2 linked regions of the Homo sapiens genome follow. The protein of the gene in region 2 purifies or fractionates together with the protein of the main gene of each other region. This does not show direct contact. Each region holds a gene or a part of one and is shown on either strand. Other genes may lie near its edges.

Evidence for each region. Proteins that work in one complex are often made in the same cells at the same time.
Region 1: the proteins of WFDC11 (region 2) and LMLN purify together in Homo sapiens (affinity purification with mass spectrometry; one large-scale study listed by BioGRID and IntAct). This does not show direct contact.

What each region holds. Positions count from the first base shown.
Region 1 is NC_000003.12:198,022,668-198,026,319, reverse strand, and holds part of LMLN (leishmanolysin-like peptidase isoform 1 precursor), read right to left. Parts: intron 1,663-3,652; coding exon 1,532-1,662; intron 1-1,531. UniProt on the Homo sapiens protein: Metalloprotease.
Region 2 is NC_000020.11:45,668,120-45,671,871, forward strand, and holds the start of WFDC11 (protein WFDC11 precursor), read right to left. Parts: upstream 2,121-3,752; 5' UTR 2,059-2,120; intron 1-2,058.

The DNA of each region.
Region 1 (3,652 bases), on a different chromosome or scaffold from region 2:
AAAAAAAGTTAATTTTACATAAATTGTATGGTATGTAAAATATATCTTGATAGTGCTATTACCAGGTCAGGCAAAGTGGCTCATGTCTGTAGTCCCAGCACTTTGGGAGGCTGAGGCAGGTGAATCACATGAACCCAGGAGTTCAAGACCAGCCTGAGTAGCATGGCAAAAGCCTGTCTCTACAAAAAATAAGAAAAATCAGCCAGGTGTGGTGGTGTGCACCTGTAGTCCCAGCTTCTCAGATGGCTGAGGTGGGAGAATCGCCTGAGCCTGGGAGTTCGTGGCTGCAGTGAGCGTGATCGCACCATTGTCTCTAGCCTGGGTGACAGAGCAAAACCCTGTCTCAAAAAAAAACAGAAAAGAAGAAAAGCAGTTACCAAAAAAAACGTTAATTTGATAAGTAACTAATGATAAGAGTTAAATTTCCAGTTCTAAAGGTCCGTTTAGCTCTTGCAGCTGAAATGGCACAGGAATGCTGATTCTGCATTTCTCAGGCTTACGCTGTCCTCCCTGACATCCATTTGTAGGGTGCAGAAGATTCATTCCATTGGATGCTCCTAAGTCACAGAATGGCTACATCTTTATAAGTCCTTAATAAGGTGATGTCATATAATATCAGATGTGCAAATAAGATAATTAAGGAAATAGTAGGCGAGGCATGGTGGCCGCCATCTATAATCCCAGTACTTTGGGAGGCCAAGGCAAGAGGATTGCTTGGGCCCCGAAGTTCTAATCTAGCCTGGGCAACATAGTGAGACCTCTTCTCTACAAAAAATCAAACACTTAGTCGGGTGTGTGGTGCACACTGTAGTCCCAGCTCCTCAGGAGGCTGAGGTGGGAAGGTCGCTTGAACCCAGGAGGTAGAGGATATAATGAGCCGTGACTGCAGCAGCACTCCAGCCTAGCTGACAGAGCAAGACCTTGTCTCAAAAAAAAGAAAAAGAAAAAGGAAAAAAAATTGTAGTTTGCCCTTTTTGGATTTCTAATTACAAAGGAAAAAACACTCTATTATTAATCAGCAACTGATTTATTCTTTTTCCTTTATTTTTTGGAGACAGGGTCTCGCTTTGTTGCCTAGGATGGTCTCGAATCCTGGGCTCAAGCAATCCTCCTGGCTCAGCCTCCCAAAGTGCTGGGATTACAGGCGTGAGCCACCACGTCCAGCCTGATTTACTAATTCTTATAACCCATGAGGTCCTCAGACCTTTTGAAATAAAATTGACATGTTTTCCATTACAAAGTAATATTTGCTCAAGAACAAAATTACCTATTTACCATTACTTCCTCAGAATATATGCCCAGAAGTAACATTACAGTAATTACATATATATTTTTAAGAGGCACTTTTTCTAAAGAAATGACAATATTTTCATAAAACATAAGCATCCAAACTAATATTTACATAAACAAGATACAGTATTGATCAGTAAATTAATGACATAAAATATGAAAATATAATTTAAAATACAAAACCATAAAAGAGATAAAATCACATAATATTTGGCACAACTAATAACAAACATAAGCTTACCTGATAGCATCCGCTTCCCCAGTCTGGGTAACTCAGCTTCCTCTCACACTTCTCCATAACGAATGCTGATTTCTGAATTAGACAAACGGAATGAGGTCCATACTTTTCAGCGCCATAGTTCTTAAAAATTTCTGAGGCAAAGAAGAAAAGTCTCCTTAAAAATTGACTTTTGGCTCAAAGAACAAGAAACTGAACCATTCCATTTTTATGATTAAAAGTTGCTTTAAAAATCAGACATGTTTCATGGAAATTTTAAATTTAAAAAATTAGGGTAGGCTGGGCACGGTGGCTCACGCCTGTAATCCCAGGGTTTTGTGAGGCTGAGGTGGGCAGATCACGAGGTCAGAAGATGGAGACCATCCTGGCTAACGTGGTGAAACCCCGTCTCTATTAAAAACACAAAAAATTAGCCGGGCGCGGTGGCGGGCGCCTGTAGTCCCAGCTACTCGGGAGGCTGAGGCAGGAGAATGGCGTGAACCCGGGAGGCGGAGCTTGCAGTGAGCCGAGATTGTACCACTGCACTCCAGCCTGGGCGACAGAGAGAGACTCCGTCTCAAAAAAAAAAAAAAAAAAAATTAGGATCCACAGGGTTCCAAACTCACACTAGGTTCTTAATAAAGGAATTAATGGGAGAAAATTACTGCATCAGACACAAGGGAATAAAACTGGGCCCAACGTTTTCTAGGTTAAATATATAGAAGAACTAGCACTAAGAATCGTTAGATCACTAGACACCAAGATAAAATCATCTTCACTGGTGGTCTAAATAGGAGGCACCTCCAAATTACTCATGATAGGATGAGGCCAAGTGATTTATATAATGCAGACTTTTGGGGGGTGTTGCAACATTTGAAAACTTTCTTATATCTTCAACTTGTGCCACCTCCTGGAAGTCCACAAATATTAGGCTGGTGCAGAAGTAATTGCGGTTTTCGCATTACTTTAACGGCAAAACCACAATTACTCTTCCACCAACCTAGTAAGATGCTGATCTAATCTCACAGTATGCACAAACCTGCAGAGGAATGAAAGGCCTCTAATGGACAAAGGGACAAAGCTCTTAAACCCGAGCAGTAATTTGCTCTCTTTAGACTCTTTACAATAAGTTGTCTTTGGGGAAGTAGAGAGTTCAATTAGCCCATTTTAAAATATTATAAAGATAAGTGTTTTATGCCAGTTTTGATAAATCTGAATTATATAAGCTAAAAAATGCAAATTAGAATAAAACAGAATTCTTTACTTCTTTTGAGTATCAGAGTCTTTCAAAACTATAGTGATCAGTGTCTAAAATGGGGTTCAGGGCTGGATGTGGTGGCTCAAGCCTATAATTTCAACACTTTGGGAGGCCAAGGAGGAAGGACCGCTTGAGGCCAGGAGTTTGAGGCCAGTCTGGGTAACATAGCAAGCCTCATCTCTACAAAAATTTTTAAAAATTAGTCAGGTGTGGAGGTGCATGCCTGTAGTCCTGGCTCTGGGGAGTCTGAGGCAGGAGAATCACTTGAGCCCAGGAGTTACAGGTTACAGTGAGCTATGATGGTGCCACTGCACTCCAACTTGGGTGACAGAGTGAGACCTTGTCTCTAAAAATAATAATAATAATAATAATAAAACAGAATTCAGCAAACTGCAACCCTCAGGCCAAATCCTGGCACATTCATTCACGTACATACTGTCTGTAACTGCTTTCAGACGGTAACGGCTGAGCTGAATCAGAAAGCTAGAGACCTTATGACCCACAAAGCCCCAGATATTTATAATTTTCCCCGTTAACAAAAAACGTTTGCCAGCTCCAGCTCTAAAACAATAACATGTGATAGTACATCTCTGGCAAATCCATAACTGACAGATCTGTGCATTTCTTTTGCTTTAATATGGAACTGCTGAGTGGTTATAAGTTGTTAGGATATTTATTTATTTATTATTTTTATGTGACATGGGGTCTCACTGTGTTGCCCAGGCTGGAGTGCAGGGGCATGATCTCGACTCACTGCAAACTCCGCCTCCTGGGCTGCTCAAGCAATCCTCTGGCTTCGTCCTCCTCCATAGCTGGGACCACAGGTGTGCACCATCACACCTGGCTAATTTTTTGGATTTTTGATACAGACAGGGTTTCACCATGTT
Region 2 (3,752 bases):
GCCCACAGCTTTTCCTGGGCCTCAGAGCCACGATACATCTTGGGCTTATTCCCATCACCAAGGCACTCTCTCTAGATACCCTTACAGTGCTAGCAGAGGGGCATAATGGGAAGGGAAATTTCAGGAGCTGAGCTGACTGTGAGAGGCTCTGAGTAAGTCTTGACTGGGTCTAGGAATATTCCCAGAGTTGTTTGGTTGGGATGAGAAAGTGGGAAAGTGGGAGAGAAGCAAAGCCTGTAGATTGTCCTAACATTTTCTTCTCTAGTTCTATTTCCTTGCCTCTTCCCACTTTACAATATACTCTTGGCCTTGTCCTATTCCTGGGACCCCTCATCAATTTATATCATTTACTTCTCTCCGTAGGAAAAAAAAAAGAAAAAGATTTCTTTTCAAGATGTCATTTTTTGCTCTTGTACTAATAAAAGAGCAACTCATGCTTAGTGCATAAATTTTGTAAAAATATGAAAATGACAATTAAATTTAAAAATAATTGTTAATCTTGTCAACCTATGCTAACATTTGTGCATATATTCTAGTAGACTTTTTCTTATGTACATATATATTTTTATATAGTGGATAATCCTGTGACTATTTTTAAGTTTAACATTTACAATAAATATTTTCCTGTACTCCTAAATATTTTCAAAAATTTCATAGATTGGTAGATTACTCTGCCAATTAATCACCAGTTGTTGACAAGCTTGGTGGTTTCAGTTTTTCCCTATTGTAGAAATTCACTATTAGTTACATAATGATAACTAAATCCTTGAGTATTTATTTATTTATTCCTTGGGAAAGCCAATAAAAGTAGAAATACAGATAATTCAATCTGTGCATAAATATTACCAATTCTCTCTTCATAATGTTTAGGCTATACTTGCACCAACAAAGAAATGGTCTGAAAATGTCAGACCATTTCCTTCATCTTGACCCTGATATAGACATTCAGAGGATTCAGATGGTAGGTCGGAGGAGCCAGCAGGCTATTGACTATTCACAGTTGTCTAGTGTCACAATCACAGGCCTTACACTCATCCGATGTAAACTTAAAACCCATCTTTACAGAGGCAGATACTAAAAAATTAAAATTAAAATTAAAAAACCATCTTTATCATTTGCTAACTCCATGACCTTGGGTAACTCATTTCACTTCTGGAAAACTCCATTAAATCACATGGAAAAATTATAGCACAGGCATACCTCATAGATATTACAGATTCAGTTCCAGGCCACCCTAATAAAGTGAGTCAAACAAATATTTTGGTTTCTCAGTGCATATAAAAGATATGTTTACACTATACTGTGATCTACTAAGTGTGTGACAGCATTATGTATAAAAACAGTGTACATATCTTAATCCAAAAATAGTTTATTGATAGACATCAATACCAAGAGCTCTCAAAACCACACACTTACATGTGCTTGTTAGTACATGCTCCTGTTCCTGAATGACTTTTTGGTAAACAACAAAATTAAGACAGAAATCAAGAAGTTTTTTGAAACTAATAAGAACAAAGATACAACATACCAAAATCTCTGGGACACAATTAAACCAGTGTTGAGAGGAAAGTTTATAGCACTAAATGCCCACATCAAAAAGTTAGAAATATCTCCAATTAACCTAACATCACACCTAGAGGAACTTGAAAAACAAGAGCAAACCAACCCCAAAGCTAGTAGAAGAAAAGAAATAACCAAAATTAGAGCTGAACTGAACAAAATGGAGATAAGGGAAACCATACAAAAGATCCATGAAACCAAAAGTTGGTTCTTTGTAGAATAAATAAGACTGGTAGACCACTAGTTAGACTACTAAAGAAAGAGAAAATCCAGATAAACACAATCAAAAATAACAAAGGGGATATTACCACTGACCCCATAAAAATACAAACAAAAATCAGAGACTATTACAAACACCACTATGCACACAAACTAGAAAACCTACACAAAATTGATAACCTCTTGGAATCATACAAACTCCCAAGATTAAACCAGGATGAAATTGAACAGACCAATAACAAGTACCAAAATTTAATCAGTAATTAAAAAAAAACTTACCAACCAGAAAAGGCCCTGGACCAGATGGATTCACAGCCAAATTCTACCAGACATATAAAGAAGAGCTGGTGCCAATCCTACTGAAATTATTCCAAAAACTTGAGGAGGAGGGACTCCTCCCTAATTCATTCTATGAAGTCAGCATCATTCTGACATCAAAACCTGGCAGAGAGACAACAGAAAAAGAAAACTTCAGACCAATATCACTGATGAACATAGATGCAAAAATCCTAAACAAAATACTAGCAAACCAAATCCAGCAGTATATCAAAAAGCTAATCCACCACATTGTTTCCTGTTGGGAGCTCCCTGCAATACCCACCCCCCCTCCCCCCTGCCCCGCAAAAAAATGAATTCACCACAATCAAGTAGGCTTTATCCCTGGGAAGCAAGATTGATTCAACATATGCAAATCAATACATGTGATTCATCACATAAACCAAACTTTAAAAAAAGATCATCTTAATAGATGCAGAAGAGGCTTTTGATAAAATTTAACATCTTTTCATGTTAAAAACCCTCAACAAACCAGACATCAAAGGTACATACCACAAAATAGTAACAGTCAACTCTGACAATCCCACAGCCAACATCATAATGAATTGACAAAAGCTGGAAGCGTTCCTCTTGAGAAGCGGAACAAGACAAGGATGCCCACTCTTGCCACTCCTACTCAATATAGTATTGAAGTCCTAGCCAGAGCAATCATGCATGAGAAAGAAATAAAAGTCATCTAAATAGGAAGAGAGGAAGTCAAACTATGTTTGACAGACAATATTCACAGACAATATAAGCCTAGAAAACCCTGTAGTCTCTGCCCAAAGCTTCTAGATCTGATAAACCACTTCAGCAAAGGTTCAAGATACAAAATCAATGTACAAAAATCAGCATTTCTAGCAGCATTTCAATCGTATGAAATGCATAGAAATATGTCCAAGCTGAGAGTCAAATCAAGAATGCAATCCCACTCACAATAGCCACAATAAGAATAAAATACCTAGGAATACAGCTAAACAGGGAGGTGAAAGAGCTTTACAATGAGAATTATAAAACACTGTATCAGAGACAACACAAACAAACAGAAAAACATTCTATGCTCATGGATAGGAAGGGTCAATATTGTTAAAATAGTCATACTGCCCAAAACAATTTACGGATTCAATGTTATTCCTATATACAAACTACCAACATTTTTCACAGAATCAGAAAAAGCCATTTGAAAATGCATTTGGAAGCAAAAAGGGCCTGGATAGCCAAAACAATTCTAAGCAAAAAGACCAAAGCTGGAGGCATTATACTTCCAGACTTCAAACTATACTACAAGCCTACAGTAACCAAAACAGCATGGTACTGGTACAAAATGAGAATCATTAACAAATGAAACAGAATAGAGAACCCAGAAATAAAGCTACACACCTACAACTGTCTGATCTTCAATGAAGCTGACAAAAACAATCAATGGGAAAAGGACTTCCTATTCAATAAATGCTACTGGCATAACTGGCTAACCATATGCAGAAGAATGAAACTGGACCCCCACTTTTTACCACATACAAAAATCAATACAAGATGGATTAAAGACTTAAATGTAAAATCTAAAGCTATAAAGACCCTAGAAGAAAATCTAGAAAATACCATTCTGGACATTGGCCCAGGCAAAGACTTCATGATAAAAACTCTACAAGCAATTGCAA